4 linked regions of the Homo sapiens genome follow. The protein of the gene in region 3 interacts with the protein of the main gene of each other region in a pairwise test. Each region holds a gene or a part of one and is shown on either strand. Other genes may lie near its edges.

The links. Proteins that work in one complex are often made in the same cells at the same time.
Region 1: the proteins of IKZF3 (region 3) and CRYBA4 interact in binary tests that used the Homo sapiens proteins (3 or more experiments, as listed by UniProt).
Region 2: the proteins of IKZF3 (region 3) and CABP5 interact in binary tests that used the Homo sapiens proteins (3 or more experiments, as listed by UniProt).
Region 4: the proteins of IKZF3 (region 3) and NATD1 interact in binary tests that used the Homo sapiens proteins (3 or more experiments, as listed by UniProt).

The regions. Positions count from the first base shown.
Region 1 is NC_000022.11:26,627,030-26,631,169, reverse strand, and holds the end of CRYBA4 (beta-crystallin A4), read right to left. Parts: intron 2,883-4,140; coding exon 2,740-2,882; intron 831-2,739; coding exon 683-830; 3' UTR 501-682; downstream 1-500. UniProt on the Homo sapiens protein: Crystallins are the dominant structural components of the vertebrate eye lens.
Region 2 is NC_000019.10:48,031,482-48,035,115, forward strand, and holds part of CABP5 (calcium-binding protein 5), read right to left. Parts: intron 2,882-3,634; coding exon 2,734-2,881; intron 1-2,733. UniProt on the Homo sapiens protein: Inhibits calcium-dependent inactivation of L-type calcium channel and shifts voltage dependence of activation to more depolarized membrane potentials. Involved in the transmission of light signals.
Region 3 is NC_000017.11:39,762,400-39,767,973, forward strand, and holds part of IKZF3 (zinc finger protein Aiolos), read right to left. Parts: intron 4,095-5,574; coding exon 3,391-4,094; 3' UTR 1-3,390. UniProt on the Homo sapiens protein: Transcription factor that plays an important role in the regulation of lymphocyte differentiation. Plays an essential role in regulation of B-cell differentiation, proliferation and maturation to an effector state.
Region 4 is NC_000017.11:21,240,891-21,244,446, reverse strand, and holds part of NATD1 (protein NATD1), read left to right. Parts: intron 1-222; coding exon 223-341; intron 342-1,017; coding exon 1,018-1,134; 3' UTR 1,135-3,556.

The DNA of each region.
Region 1 (4,140 bases), on a different chromosome or scaffold from region 3:
CATAAAATAAGTCTTAATTCATTGCAGAAGACTTAAATCTTAAGGAATATGTTCTCCGACCACATTGGTCTTTAAAAACACACCAATAACAATAAACACCTAGAAAATCCTAAAGTATTTGGAATTTAAATAACATCCCTTTAAATAGCCCATAGGTCAAAAGAAAAAAAAAAAACCACAAGTGAAACTAGAAAATATCAAACTGAATGACAATGAAAACACATCAAATTAATATTTGTGGGAAGCAGCTAAAGCCATACTTGGAGGGAAATTTATAGCTAAATGACCGTACTGGGTGGGGGAAAGAGAGGCCTAAAATTAATGACCCAGAAGTCTGCCTTAAAAAAAAGCTAGAAAAACTAAGAACAAAGTAGGCCTGAAGTAAATAGAAGAAAGGAAATACTGAAGTTAAGAGTAAAAATCAGTGGAATAATGATAGAGAAAACAAGGCTAAAAACCGGTTCTTTGAAAAGATTAATAAAATTGAAAAGCACAACTAATACCAGACTTTCTCTTTTTTATTCGTTTGAGTTTTTTGTGCTGACTGTGCACGGACCAGTTCACATGGGTGCTGGGTTCACACAGGTTACAGGGGGAGGCAGAAGGAGAGAACACACCACAGCCTCCAGAGCGCCTCCATTGCAGATAAGCACGCATGCGCTCCTCCGTGCCGCACCCCTGTTCACTGCTGGATCCTGCGGATGCTCTGCACCTGGAAGGTCGGGGCATGAGAGCCCCACTCCCGGAAATGTTTGTAGTCACCGGAATGGTGATCGCATTCCAGCACATACTGAAATCCTCGGTAGCCCGGAAACTGGGAGCAAACCCAGCTGGAAAAGAGAAAAGGCAGACAGTTACTCTACAGAGACACCAGCATGGTGATCAACACAGGGGCAAAGGGATCTATGCACACGCACACAATTCCAGCCATCCTGGCCTTTCTTCAGTGCTCACAATGTGCCATGCTCTCTCCCCTACCACAGGGCCTTTGATCATGCCATTCCCTTTGCCAGAAGCACCATCCCAGCCTTTCTTTTCCTAGACAAGTTGTATTTGTCCTTCATGGCTCATCTTAATTATGAGGGCAATCTGACTCGTTCCCCAAATCAGGCCACAGTCCCTTATTATACCTTTGTAGCACTCATGTAATTCGATAGTTTTCAAATTATTTGTAAAATATCAGCCTCCCCTGCCAGCAGGCAAGCTCCTGAGTGTAGGAACGTGTATGTTTTGTTCATCGTTATCACCACCTGCATAAATATATAAAAGTCTAGCAAGGAAGAAGGGGTTCCTAAATATTTGCTGAATAAGTGAACAAGTGAAGGAATGGGAAGTCTTGTTCTTTCCCCTTTCTCCCTCCTTCCTTATCCAGAGGCACTTCCAAGAAAAAAAGCTATCATTTCAATTCATTGATTTTTTTTTTTTTTTTTTTTTTGAGACAGAGTCTCACTCTGTTGCCCAGACTGGAGTGCCGTGGCATGACCTCGGCTCACTGCAACCTCTGCCTCCTGGGTTCAAGTAATTCTGCCTCATCCGAGTGGCTGGGACTAGAGGCATAGCCACGACACCCAGCTAATTTTTTGTATTTTTAGTAGAGACGGGCTTTCACCATGTTGGCCAGGCTGGTCTCGAACTCCTGACCTCAGGTGATCCGCCCACCTCAGCCTCCCAAAGGGCTGGGATTACAGGCGTGAGCCACCGTGTCTGGCCCAACTCATTGATTTCTACTCTGTTCAGGACAAGGATTGGTGTCTGGTTTTCCAAGCCTCCATTTCCCTTTCTGTAAAAGAGGAAGTGAACTCAAGAATCACAAGGGGTCCCTCTTACTCTAAAACAACATGATTCTTTGGTGGTTCCTGAGAAAACTAAAGCCAAAAAAAGAAAAAAAAAAAAGATGAAAAACCCTACCTCCCATCTTTGCCCCCTGCCTACCAGGAGCCAAGGGGCACCTCAGAAAGTGGTTCTGATGTCCTCCCTAAATAAGAATCTCACACCTTAGCCTTCACCTGCCACCTCCTGGGTGGAAAGGAAAGGGCCAGTCAGTGCTGAGTTTGAAGCTGGATTGTTACCTACCTGCTGATGGACTTTGAGCAGGTTGCTGGAGCCACACCTGTGTTTTATGGCTAGGGGCATTCATTCTCCCCTCTTCTAGCCAAAGAGCCTGTGGCCTCTCACTCTCAGCCAAGGTGAGAAAATGAGGCTGAATCTAGCAATGGACCACATGACCAAACCTAGCCAATCAGAACACCCCATTCCTATGGGCATGATGATTGGTTCAGAGTTGAGCACAGGACCCAGCTGGACCAATGAGCACCTTTCTTGGAACCTTTAATAGAATCACTGAGCCTGGACACTGTCTTTCCCTAGGGCTGGATGTAACGATGAAGCCGCCACCTTTGCCTTCACACAGGAAGAGCTTGTCTAAGAATATAGTCACACAGAGGCAGGCAGGGCAACAGGTTGGGGGTTGTGGGGGGAGAGAGATACCTGCTGTAGTACCTGGATCCAGCTATGCTTGAAGCTAATTACAGGGGCTGATAAATATCTTCTGGGCTCAAACCAGTTTGATCTGGGTTTCAGTCCCTCAAATTCTGCCTGATACCTCCCTGTGCCTCAGTGTTCTCCTCTGGAATGTGGGCATCAGAGCACAAAAGTCCCCAGCACACAGTTTTCACAGGAGGTACACCTACCCCTCCCAGTAGCCCCTCCCCTGCCAGGTAGAGCCTTGAATACACTTACGCCCCAGAGTGGACGTGGAAGGACCCTACTTCATTGCCTTCCCATCCCATGGCCTGGAGGGAAGGATAGTCATCGCTCAGCTCTCCTTTCTTGCCCAGGAAGTTCTCTTGCTCGAAGATTGTCAGCCTCGAGTCACGGTGGTTCTACAGGAACAGGGAACACAGTCAGACCAGCAGGCTCCCAGTTGGAAACCCAGGAGCCTCTCCTGGCCTCCACACTCCCTGCCCTTGTCTCCCAAATCAGCCTTCCTTGCAAACCTTTTGGAAGGGCAATAAGGCAACAGGTACCAGAAACCTTGCCATTTGCCCTTCCAGAAATTTCCACAAAGAAAATAATCATGGAATAAATAGGCTGCAAGAATGTTCATCATAACAGTTTTTTCAAAAACAAACAAACAAAAAAAGGAGTCAACTTTTATGTCCAAAATTGGGGATCCAGTGGTAAGCTGAGGCATTACACTGTGGTTAAGAAAAAGGGTGTAGAGGCCCGGCGCGGTGGCTCACGCCTATAATCCCAGCATTTTGGGAGGCCGAGGAGGGTGGATCACCTGAGGTCAGGAGTTCAAGACCAGCCCGACGAACATGGTGAAACCCTGTCTCTACTAAATACAAAAAATTAGCCAAGCGTGGTGGCACATGCCTGTAATCTCAGCTACTTGGGAGACTGAGGCAGGAGAATCGCTTGAACCTGGGAGGCAGAGGTTGCAGTGAGCCGAGATTGTGGCATTGCACTCCAGCCTGGACAACAAAAGCAAAAACTCCATCAAAAGAAAGAAAGAAAGAAAGAGAGAGAGAGAAGGAAGGAAGGAAGGAGAGAGAGAGAAAGAGAAAGAAAGAAAGAGAAAAAGAAAGAAAAAGAAAGACAGAGAATGAAAGAAGGAAAGAAAGAAAGAAAAGGAAAGAAAGAGAAAGAAAGAAAGAAAGAAAGAAAGAAAGAAAGAAAAGGAAAGAAAGAGAAAGAAAGAAAGAAAGAAAAAGAAAGAAGGAAAGAAAGAAAGAAAGAAAAAGAAAGAAAGAAAGAAAGAAAGAAAGAAAGAAAGAAAGAAAGAAAGAAAGAAAGAAAGAAAGAAAGGAGGGAGGGAGGGAGGGAGGGAGGGGAAAGGAAAAGAAAAGAAAAGAAAAAAGAAGGAAAGAAAGGAGGTGTAGAGATATCATCTCAAATCCTTCCTGCTAGGAGGCAGCTGCCACTTACCAACTGACTGAGGTTAGACAGGATTTCTGAGCCTCTGTTCCTGTATCTATAAAATGAAACTAACCCTACCCATTTTTCAGGGTTCTTTTGAGGACTAAATGAAATCAGGAGTTGCAAACTGCTGGGAATGAGGGATTGTTTCTGTTGCAGCCCGCCACGGGTCCCTATATTAGCACAATATCTAGACTGTTTGCAGAATAAATGAACAAA
Region 2 (3,634 bases), on a different chromosome or scaffold from region 3:
GTGAGCCAAGGTTGCACCACTGTAGTGCAGCCTGGGTGACGGAGTGAGACTCCATCTAAAAAACAAAACCCAAAAAACCTGTGATTGTCACTATGAGATTTCATCATCTCAACCATCCTGGAGGGATAAGTGTCACTTTACAGATAAGGAAACTTACGCCAGCGAGGGTCACCAACATACCTGAGGCCACGTGGATAGTGAATGGTGAACCCTGGAAGGAATGCAGGTTGCACCTGACTTTGCTGTGGCTCAAGACGATCTTGCTGCCCACCCGGGTCTTGAGGTCATCCTGACCTTCCCTTGCCTTTGGTTGGCCTGAGGATCATCTCCCACCCCCACCCCACCTTCTCCAGATGTCACTTGATGTCCACTGCACACCTAATCCTGGCTAGATCTAGCAGGTGTCCAACCAGCCTCTACTGTGTTTCCATACTGGGACATACAGCATATATGGTTTAGAGAATGGCCCTTCCTCCTCTCTATCTAGGATGGAGGCCTTGGAAGCTAATACAACTCAACACAGCAAGGTCTGCTGTGATAACTTCCATGGAGAGGAACAGAAAAACTTCTGTAAGACTTCACAGCTGGGAGGAAGACATGAGGGAAGGATGGAGAGAAGCTTCCTGACAAAGGTTGCCTTGATGTGAGTTCCTGAGGGATGGATGAGACTGAAAGATGTGGTAAGTGGACGGAGCATCTGATGCCTAGGAACGGAGGTTGGAGAACATAAAGCAGGCACCAAGTTTGTGCCAGAACTTAAAAGTTCAGAGAATAGCTACAGAAGATACAGGCTGGGTGGGTGGGCGAGGCCAGATGATGGATAGACTTGCATATCAGACAAATAATTTTGGACTTTTTTTTTTTTTTTCTGGAGACGGAGTCTCGCTCTGTCACCCAGGCTGGAGTGCAGTGGGGCGATCTCACTGCAACCTCCGCCTCCCAAGTTCAAGCAATTCTCCTGCCTCAGCCTCCCAAGTAGCTGGGACTACAGGCACATGCCACCACCCCTGGCTAACTTTTTGTATTTCAGTAGAGATGGGTTTCACGGTGTTGCCCAGTCTGGTCTTGAACTCCTGAGCTCAGGCAATCTGCCTGCCTTAGCTTCACAAAGTGCTAGGATTACAGGTGTGAGCCACGCGCCTGGCCTTTTTTTCTTTTTTTCTTTTTTTGAGATGGAGTCTCACTGTTGCCCGGGCTGGAGTGCAGTGGTGTGACCTCGGCTCACTGCAGCCTCCACCTCCTGGGTTCAAGCAATTCTCCTGCCTCAGCCCCCGTATAGCCTGGGACTACAGGCGTGCACTGTCACTCCTAGCTAATTTGTATATTTTTAGTAGAGATGGGGTTTCACCACGTTGGCCCCCCTGGTCTCGAACTCCTGACCTCAGGTGATCCGCCAACCTTGGCTTCCCAAAGTGCTGAAATTACAGGCATGAGCCACTGAGCCCGGCCAGAATTTTGGATTTTTGTCCATAAGCAGCAGATAGGTGCTGAGATCTTTGAACCAAAGAATGTCACAATTAGAACTTGACATGCTTTTTTTTTTTTTTTTTTGGACGGAGTGTTGCTCTGGAGTGCAATGGCGCGATCTCAGCTCACTGCAACCTCCGCCCCCAGCGTTCTAGCAATTCTCCTGTCTCAGCCTCCCAAGTAGCTGGGATTACAGGCACCTGCCACCACTTCCGGCTAATTTTTTTGTATTCGTAGTAGAGACAGGATTTCGCCATGTTGGCCAGGCTGGTCTCAAACTACTAACCTCAGGTGATCCACTCGCCTCGGCCTCCCAAAGTGCTGGGATTACAGGCGTGAGCCACCATGTCCGGCCGACATGCCTTCCTATGCCTCACATAAAAAAGAACCCCACGTCTCATCCATGTAGAACCCCAATCCTTTTCACTTATTCAGTGATCCAATATACTCATGCTGGGCTCAGTGCTAGGATTTGGGGATATAGTGATGATGAAGGAATTGGTCCATGGTCTCAGAAGGAAATAGGCAATAAACTCTAGAGATGCCACGAATCCGTATTACTGCAGAAGCAAGCGGGAGGTATTACTGGGGAGCCAGCAGAGGGACACGGAGCCCAGTAAGAGAGGTGGGAGGTACCTTCCAGGAACATAACTAGGAGTTAGCCAGGGGAGAGGGGAAAGGGTATTCCAGACGGAAGGACAACTTGAGCAAAGACAGGGAAGGAAAATTTAAAAATACAGTGGTGCTTTGTGCATGATTTCTTTTAGTTTTCTCCAAAAGGTGTCATCATCCACCTCATTTTACAGATGGGAAAACTGACCCTTAAAGAGAAAAAGGGAGTAGCATAAGCCACATGCTGAGTCAGCGATGATCCTGAATTTGAAGCCCCTGAACCTGACCCCAGAGCTCCAGCTGCTAGCCAGTCCAGTCTCTTTCTGATGGGACAAGTTCTTCCTAGGATAAAAGGTGCCCTGCAAACTAACAAGGAATGGGCAAGGCGGAAGGGCGTCCTGAGCATGGGAAGGAAAGGGCCTTGGCTGAGGTGTTCCTCGGAGCCACCAGAAGTGAGCGACACCCAGCTCTTTGAAATGAATAGCCTGGGAAGAAAGGGACAGAACAAATGCTTCCAAAACCTGCCACCCGCTTCCATTCTCAAACTTGGAGAGGAGTGAGAAGGAGTGGCCAACTTGGAAAATCTGACAGTGAGTTGGAAGTGGATTCCTGCGGTGGCTGCCCCCGCTCCCCACCACGCCCCGTCAATGTCACCTTCAAAGTCAACTGTGCCGTCTCCATTAACATCAGCCTCCCGGACAACCTCAGAGATCTCCCGGGGGGTGAGCCGCTCCCCCAGGAGTCTCTGCATGGCCTGCTGTAGCTCCACCAGGGTGATCTCCCCATCTCCATTCGTGTCAAACTGAATAGAAGCAGAAATAGATTATATCAGCAATGACAATGATGATAGCCACGAGATGATGGAGTTTACCTATCGCTTACTGTGGGTCAAGCACTGAGATAAAAGCTTTGGGAATGTGAGCCACTAGAACGTCAGCTCCAAAAGACAGTTTTGTTCTGTTTTTTTTTTTCTTTTTTTCTTTCTTTTTTTTTTTTTTTTTATTTGAGACAGTCTCACCCTGTCACCCAGGCTGAAGTGCAGTGGTGCAATCTCAGCTCACTGCAGCCTTCACCTCCTGGATTCAAGCGATTCTCGTCCCTCAGCCTCCCGAGTAGCTGGGATTACAGGCGCGCACCACCAAACCTGTTTAATATTTGTATTTTTAGTAGAGACAGGGTTTCACCATGTTGGCCAGGCTGATCTTGAACTCCTGACCTCAGTTGATCCACCTGCCTCAGCCTCCTAAAGTGCTGAGATTACAGGCTTGAGCCACTGTGCCCGGCCGAAACTTTTTTTTAATGAGACGGGGTCTCACTATTTTGGCCAGGTTGGTCTTAAAATCTTGGCCTTAAGCAACCCTTCCACCTTGTCCTTCCAAAGTGCTAGGCTTACAGTCCTGAGCCAAAGTGCCCAGCGATACATTTAAAACTTACTTTTTAGGTGATTTTTGAAACATACATTATTATTTACTATAGTTATCCTGCTGTGCAATAGATCTCAAAAGTTATTCCTCCTGTCTAACCAAAACTTTGTACCCTTTGACAAGCAACTGTC
Region 3 (5,574 bases):
GGGCCCCAATCTAGGCTCAGAATGCCACAAAGAAAGTGCCTTTGTGAGTGGTCACCTTACTCAGAAAACTAACCTCAGAAGAATAGAAATCATGCAGCAAATTCATTAGTCACAGGAAAAAGGAGGATCATATCTATAAAAAGAGTCCCCAGGCTGGTGGAATGGGCCTTGGTTTCACAATCTTGAGATGCAAAAGGTGGTCTCAGGCTGGGTGCGGTAGCTCATGCCTGTAATCCCAGCACTGTGGGAGGCCAAGGCGGGCAGATCACCTGAGGTCAGGAGTTTGAGACTGGCCTGGCCAACATGGTGAAACCTTGTCTCTACTAAAAATACAAAAATTAGCCGGGCTTGGTGGTGAGCACCTGTAATCCCAGCTACTTGGGAGGCTGAGGCAGGAGAATTGCTTGAACCCGGGAGGCGGAGGTTGCCGTGAGCCGAGATCGCGCCACTGCACTCCAGCCTGGGCAACAGAGCGAGAGACTGTCTCAAAACAAAAGAAAACAAAAAAAGTTGGTCTCCTCTGCAAAGACTTGAACACTAATCTGGTGGAAAGGCTTCCTTTCCCTCGTTTTCTCTTCTACTAATCCCTGCTTCCAAATTCTCTTTCTCTTGTCCCTTGAAGAACCAACAGGATGTGCGATATTTCAAGAACGTAATGAGCAACTCCTCTTTCACAAAGGGAATAAGCAATCTGGCATAGCTTGGAGTCTAGTATTACGGAAATACAGTGATATACTGAAGACTACACACCAAAATACATCCATTCCTTTAGCTGAAGTCTCAAACATGTTGGGACTGTTGCCATGGAATTTCATAAAACCTTTTTTCCTGAGACAGACGCCATGCCACAAAGAAGGATAAGCCATTTGTGCAGTCTGAGGTGGAACATTTTAATTACTGGCAGCACATAGACGAGTTGAGTTGGAGCCGAATGCATAAGCCCCTTAGAAATAAAACACTAATCTACCAGGAATTTGGGATTCTTGGCTCTGGTAGAAATGTTACAAATTAAGCTGACTCTTAATTTGTAAATAGGCTCCATGAAGTTGTCCCTGGAAGCAGAATTTATTTTCCCTAACATAATTTCTTAAAAAGTAAAAAAAAAAAGAAGGCTTTGGCAAACAGCTGCATGTGCCAATTTGTGTGTATGCTTTGTGGCAAGATCAAAATACCTTTCTGTTTTTTGTTCCTCTCCACCACCTTCTTCACATTCACAACTCAGTGGTTAAAGGAAAAACTTAACACACCATTTTCATACCAAAGGAATGTGAAACATGTATTCATATAAATACTCTTCTGCTTAATATCCATACATTAGGAGGTTTAAAAAATACCTTGTGGTTACTGCATAATCACATATGAATTAAAGCTAGAAGGGACCTAAGAGAACATTGAAATCTAATTCCTATTTTATGGATGAGGAAACTGAGTTTTTTTTGTTTTTGTTTGTTTGTTTTTGTTTTGTTTTGTTTGAGACAGGGTCTCACTCTGTCGCCCAGACTGGAGTGCAGTAGTGTGATCTCCACTCACCGCAACCTCAACCTCCCAGGCTTAAGCGATTTTTCTGCCTCAGCCTCCGGAGTAGCTGGGATTACAGGCATGTGCCACTACTGCCCAGCTAATTTTTGTATTTTTAGTAGAGACAGGGTTTCACCATGTGGGTCAGGCTGGTCTCGAACTCCTGACCTCAAATGATGCGCCTGCCTCGGCTTCCCAAAGTGTTGGGATTACAGGTGTGAGCCACCGAGCCTGGCCGGAAACTGAGTTTTAAGAGTTAAATAAGGCTGGGTGTGGTGGCTCACACCTGTAATCCCAGCACTTTAGGAGGCTGAGGCGGGCTGATTGCTTGAGCCCAGGAGTTCAAGACCAGCATGGGCAACATAGTGAGACCCCTATCTCTACAAAAAGAACAAAATGTAGCCAGACATGGTGGTGTGCACTTGTTGTCCCAGTACTCAAGAGGCTGAGGTGGGAGGATCACCTGAGCCTGGGGAGGTCGAGGCTGCACTGAGCCATGATTGCACCACTGCACTCCAGCCTGGGCAACAGAGTGAGATCCTGTCTCAAAAAAAAAAAAAAAAAAAAAGTTAAACGATTTCTCAAAGTCACATAGCTAATTAGCCAGCATTTTGTGACCTCCTATTCCAGTGCTAATTTTACCATGATAACAGCACTCCTCCTGATAGTATGTACATATTATGAGTGACAAGGATGACTTATACATCTGCAGAACCGTGATCAGACTTTCAGGAATTTTCATGGAATACAGCAGTTCCATTTAAATGGGAAAAAAAGGGCCGAAGCCTGCCTGATCAAGGAGAACCTCTCAATAGAGGTGTCCCTCCTCACCCCATTCCGGAGCTCAACTCCGATCTAAACACACATGCCATCTATCTCCAATTCCTCTCCTGTGGGGAGGGGGAGGCTGAGCCATACTTTTTGGACTTTTTTTGTGGAAAATATCATTGGCAAATTTGCTTTGGGTCTGTATCACCAATTCTCCATGAACTCTTTCAAGAAGTTTTAGGTAGCTGTTTTTTGTTTGTTTGTTTTCTGTTGGTGCTGCCAAACAATTTCCCCCTTTATACCCTTGCTCTGCCAACCTTGACCAAAGGAAAGCGATGTCATCATCCACAGTGGATAAATTTCTGGAGTTTCGATGATGGTCTATATTTAAAACCATGAGTTCTTCTGGCATAGATTTTCTTCTATAGACAACTGGTTTAGCCCAAAGCAGCTCAGCTTTTCACTGGAGATGGGAAGGTAAAGGACAGAAGCAGAAGTGCCATCAGATGACATTTTTTAAAAATGTTGTGATAGGAAATGGATCTGATGCTTGGAGAATGGGGTCTTCAGTTACTCGTAACAGATACTTATTTTATGGCTGTTCTTTTACTTACTCTTAGACTGTCATTTAGATTAGGGAGATTAGATCTTAACCCTTCAGCCTGTGAAGGGCAGAAGGGTGAGGCTTCCCAGCAAGGTCAGCTGGTCAGCTCTTCCTCTTTGTGGATTTGCATGTATGACTGAAAGGCTTTTCCACGTGTGGTTGATATATCTCAGAAAGAATGTTTCATATAGCACATCTCCGGGACCACTCATTCCACTGCTGTAGAAGATAATGACCAAATACCTTTTTGGCTTTTAAATTCCATAAAATTCAAGTCCCTGATGGGAAAACAAAGGTTTCACAAAAGTAATAATATGCTAGACCTGCGAATAATTTCTGAAGGAAGACAGTGTTTCCCTGGCTACCCCTGTGAACACAGCTAAAAATGGTATGAAAAGAAGTTTGGAACTGAGTATGTTTTGAGAGCAATCTGTTAGGCGAGGTCATTGGTTTTTAGAAACGATGCTGAATACATAGGAGCAATCCCTGAGACCAGATATTCACTTCAGCAGGGCTCTGTGTTCTCCTCTGGCTATGTGAGACGAGAACTCATACCGATCATGGCTTCGATATCCACACATGTTACACTCGAAAGGGTCACGGAAGCCGTGGCAGCCCATGTGAATCGTGAACATCACATAGTCCAGGAAGAGGACGCGGCAGTGGTCACACCGATACACATCCATCACCTCCCCTTCCTTGTTGATCACTTTGACGGAGTCTCTTGGGCAGATGGGCGGGGGCTTGAGGAGTTCGTAAGAGCGGGGAACCTCCTTCAGAAGTGGCATCCCATTGCGGGCCCGAGACAGGACCATGTGATTTTGCTGATAGATGTGATTCTGGCGTTCTTCATGGTTGCTGTCAGTGTCCGTGGAGTCGTGGCCACTATTGTTGGGAGAGAGGCCTCTCTCAGAAGGCACGCTCTTCTCTGGAAGGTGGATGCTTTTCTTTTCCAGCTCTTGAGGGGCACCGTTTGACATCTCAGCCCGGGTGAGGGCTATGGGATACATGCTGCTGATAACTGGAACCATCTCCGAGGTGGGAGCAGGCGGTGTCTGGACCAAGGGGCGCAGGGCTTCGGCGCCAAGATAGCTGATGGCGTTATTGATGGCTTGGTCCATCATGCGGGTCTGTATGAGCTCACTCTCTTTCTCATACATGTAACTTGAATTATAGTTGACATCAAAGCAGTGGCGCTTCTCACCTGGAACAAGTGACAGAAAGGGTTACAAAGGGAACACTGCCAAGGCAGAGAGTTTGTAAATATTTTCTAGAGACCTCAAAAAGGGAGGAGAGTTAAGTTGCCTGCTGCTCAAGAAGACCAAGCCTGGCAGAATGGTTTCCCATGGTGCTGTCTCAGGGGACACTGGTCGGCAGCAACGTGTTTGGATGGTTAAAATAAAGCCAGCAGGCAGAAGAGAGGGGCAGAGATGTGGTTCAGTTGAGGCCACATGGTAAGGTATGCCCACTGTGCATGTTAGAGGAGAGCCCTCAAGAAAGGAGGGAAAGAAGCAGGACACTAGGATGGGGCTAGAGGGACAAGGGAGCCACCAGCCCACAGGAGCCTGGGACTTCTGCTATAGTTCATGATCTCTTAAGACACAGTCGGCTCCCAACTCTTATTTTGCTTTTGCTTGTTATTTTCTGCTTGCAATATTAGGTAGCCAGGGGGACAGAAGTGCTGCAAAGAGTGGGGACACTCGGTGCCTCACCTCGGCAGCTTTTTAAATAGCTACAGAGATAGAGAAAATAGCCCCCCAGACTCCAACTGGCTACTCCCCAAACTCACCCGTCCTGGCTGACTGAGACTGAAGTGAAAGAGCTTCAAATGTAGAAAGTTTGAGAAAAGTTTTCTTGAGAAGAGATCATGGTCTTTGTCCCTTTCCTAACGTGTGTTTCTCTTCCTTTGCTTGGCAAGTGTATCTCTGATACACATGTGATCATTAGGGCCTATCTCACACTTAACTGAAAAAATATACTTGTGGTCACCCTCTCCTACTTCTCATGTCAAACTGCTGAGAAGTTTTGAAAACAGAGTTTAGCCACCTTCAGAGTGTGTGGGTGTTGTGTGTTAGAAAACAGAGGCTCTCTGGTCACAGGGAAGGCAGGGATGGGGACTGCAGTGAGGGCAGATGTGCTCAGTGGTGAGTGGTGGGGAGAGGGGAGAGAAAGCGAGGAAGTGGAGCCGAGTGCTGGAGGTGAGGCTGAGGTCACTGTTGAGCCTCTCCATTCTGTCAGCTTGGATCCTGGAGGGATTTGCTAAACCATATCCTTCTATAATGTTTCCTAGTCATGTTGAGATTCCAAAATTTGTCACTGCCCTACAGTAAAGGGTTCAGCAATGAAAATAAAGAAGAAGAAGAAAAAATGCCATGAGAAAACAAAAGGATTGGAAGAACCAGTTCCTGTTCTTGAGGTGTCTCCAACCTAGTGGATGAGAAATAAGACCTATATATATATAGAACTCGAGAAAAAGTATAAGTTAAAAGTTGGCCGGGCGCGGTGGCTCAGGCCTGTAATCCTAGCACTTTGGGAGGCTGAGGAGGGAGGATCACTTGAGCCCAGGAGTTCGAGACCAGCCCGGGCAACATGGAGGAACCTTGTCTCTACAAAAAAATACAAAAATTAGCCAGGCATCTGTAGTCCCAGCTACTCAGGAGGCTGAGGTGGGAGGATCACCTGAG
Region 4 (3,556 bases), about 19 Mb from region 3:
CACGTCACAGAGGTTACCTCATTTAATCCTCCAAACCACCCTATGAAGGACATTTTATTGTACCTCCACTTTATGGATGAGGAGACTGAGGCACTGAGAGGTTATTCAGGATTCAGCTGTAGCAGCTGAATGACTCCAAATGCCTGTCCCTCCACCCGTCTTGGTGCCTGAGTCCGCTGGGATGGGAGTCAGCATAGGCTTACCTGTCTCCACAACCCCCAGGATGTCATGACCGGGCCGTCCTGCTCTATGAGTACGTGGGCAAGCGGATCGTGGACCTGCAGCACACCGAGGTCCCAGATGCCTACCGTGGGCGTGGCATCGCCAAGCACCTTGCCAAGGTAGGGCAGGCAGGTGGCAGGGCCAAGCGGGGACGGGGACATGGGGGCTGCCACCTTCGCTCCGAGGAGACGGTGGCCCTGGTGGCCACTTCAGCCTGCTTCTTGGCCCTGGGTCCTCTCTGGGCCAGTGGCCGCCTTTCTGGGCCCAGGCTCCTGTTCTGCAAGACCCTGGCGTGGCTGAGCCTCCAAGATCCTCACACACCTCCTGTGTGGCAGGTGCTTCACAGGAGCCCCATTCCTGCCCCCAACCCCTTCATCCTCAGGGCATCCCAAACCCCAGGCTGCCTGGAGAGCAGGTTTGGGCTTAATGAAGGGAGTTACAGCCAGAGCAAAGAATGACCGTCACTCCCCTGAGGGCTGCTGCTGGGACTTAGCTGGGCCGTCTGCCGGCTTCCCCTCCTCCACCCCCACCCCGCCAGGAGAATTGCAGGGCAACCTTTGTCCTCCATGCTGCCTGGGGCAAGGGGGCTTGTAGGGGAGAGGTGATGTGTTTTTTCCTTGTGTACCGGACCAGTCTGTGGGGATCATCCCAGGTGACACTGAAACTCAAGGGAGTTACTGACCTGGGCAAAGTGGAAGGGTGGCCAGGGAGCCGGGCCTGGGGAGGCAGCAGACAATGCTACCTTCTGGTGCCGGCTGCAGGCCCTGACCACTCTCCTCTCTGCCCGGCTCCCAGGCCGCCCTGGACTTCGTGGTGGAGGAGGACCTGAAGGCCCATCTCACCTGCTGGTACATCCAGAAGTACGTCAAGGAGAACCCCCTGCCGCAGTACCTGGAGCGCCTGCAGCCGTAACCCTGGCCTGCAGGCGGGAGCGCTCCCTGCCGGACTCTTCCACGTGGCCTTTGCCTGGCCCCACGTGCTCTCAGGAACCTGGTCCCACTGGGAACAGACTCAGAGTTATTTTTGTAAGGACACTCATCTGTGCCCCACGTCCAGATCCCTGGAGGCAGCTGACCAATGATGGGCGGTGACCCGGTAACCGAGGCGGCAAGGAGGCCAGGTAGTCCCGGCACCTCTCACTCTGCAGAGACCAGCGGCTTCGTGGGAGGCCTGTGGGTCACACGTAGGGGCTAGAGCCAGCCTGCATCCTGCCCACCGGGCTCCACTTGGAGATCAGCAGGAGGGCCAGTGTGGGACCCCTGCTGCCACCTCTCCTGGGCCTGTGTCCTTTCTGGAAATTAAGAAGGTGTGCTCCAGAGCCAAGAGGAGCAATAAGAAACCTCGTGTGCCAGCTTCTGAGGGTGGCAGTGCCAGACCCCACCTGCCAGCGGTGCTGCCCCTTTCTCAGACCCCCATGCCCAGTGCAGGCAGGGCCCTGGAAAGGGTCAGCTCTCCCTGACAGAGACCAGCAGAGTGAAGGACTGAGCACTGGCCAGGCTCAACCGTACGTGCGGTTCACACATGTGAACACACAGGATGCAGTCTACAGGCGGGCTGGTGGTGGGTGCCGGGGGTGTTTTCCTCTCCTTGGTACCCCCATCTTTTTTTTGGCCTCTCGTGTAGGTTCTGCAGGAAACCAAGGCCCCATCCCCATGGGCTGCTATCCCCTATACCCCTGTCTGCCAGGAGGAGATCCAAGGGGGCCTGAGCAGCTGCAGGCCCGCCCCTTGCTGGCCTTGGCCACCTGCCTGAGCCTTCTCCGAGGAGATGCCTTGGGGCTGGGGTGGGAGTGAAGCTGACTATTCTCCAAAAACCACCCTCAGCATCCAAGAGGAAGAAACATCAGCCACAGGGGTTTCTGTGCTGCTGCCAGACATCAGTGTCCTCTTTTGTGGCTGGCTACAGCCGGATACACTTTGCTGCCCATCTGGCCCTGGGCTCCTCCCCAACCCAGCCTTCCTGGGTGCAGCCTGGGAGACACACTAGCATGCTTTGGTGGGACCAGCCTTTCCAGGGCATGCTGGCTTCCCCTGGGGCTGACTCAGGTCCCGCCCTCTTGTGTCAGTGCTAACAAGGATCAGATTCGTCCCTGCCCTTCTGTAGAGCTGGAGGGTGACCTGGAGCCAGGGGCCCTTTAGGGCTGAGACATTTGTTAGTCGGAGTGATGCATCCCTACCCGGCTTCGGGGGGAGTCAGGCTGGGCTCTGGGCAGTACAGGGAGAGGTTCACCAGGACCCCCATGCCTTCCTCCCCCGGTGCAGGGGCAGTGGTCACCATGCTGACTCCTCCCTTTGACTCCATGCACGGGCGCTGGCTGGCCTGTGGTTGCATTTCCCACTCACCTCCTTGCTATCCCCAGTCTTGGCACCGAGACCCCCCACATTCCTTCTCCAGCAACAGCAGCCCAGGGGCCTTCCTGCCTGGACGCAGGACCACGGAGACCTGCATGTGCAGGGAGGCCTGGCAGCCTGCCGATGGGGGTCCCCGAGCCCCGGAGTCTCCTCGAAACCCCTGCTGTGGGTCACAGCATGGACCAGGAGGGGTCACCATCCTGAGTACCCCCGACATCCCTGCCCCTTGACCTGTGGCAGATGCTCCTGCCCTGGCCTCCAGGAAGTCAGCTCTTTTGCAAAGGGCTTGTGTGAGAGGTCGGAGAAAGCCCTGGGCCTCCAGGGAGATGCAGCTGGCAGGAGGTGGGCTGAGCTGCTCCGGGGCTAGGGGTGGCCCATTGCTGGCAGAATTTAAGGAAAGAGCAGGTTGTAGGCACAGAGGATGGGCAGCCAGGCCTGGGCCTTCCCCTTACTGTCCCAGGGCAGCAGAGCTAGGGTCCTCTTTTACCCTCCCTAAGGTCACCCCCTTCCCATCTACACGTCCCTCCCCAAGTTCAAGCACATAGTCAATCATGACCACTCAGGAGCTCAGTGAGCTGGGGCCATGTCCCTGTGGCCTCCAGCCCATCCGCAGGAGGGTCCCTTGCAGTGACAGCACAAAGAGTCCCCCACAGGAAGCCCCTGAGGGCCAGCATGGACCTTGAGAGCCAGGAGGGAATGGGCCTGGTGCCACTCTGTTCCCACTCCCACCTAAGATTCCTACCCCTGTGTTCTAGCAGGTGACTCTTGATCTGGCCAGCCCACAACAAATACTTGAACTAGGCAGCATGGGGTGGTGGAGGCCTGCAGAGGCCCCGGGCCCAGGAACTGAGACTAGGGCTTTCTCATGAGGCCTCATCAAGCTCCCGCAGGTATGACCTGGCCTCCTCGCCTCGGGCTGCCTTAAAGCACCGCTAACCCACGCCAAGGGGCTAGGCAGGGCTTCGCGGGGCCTGGCCCAAGGT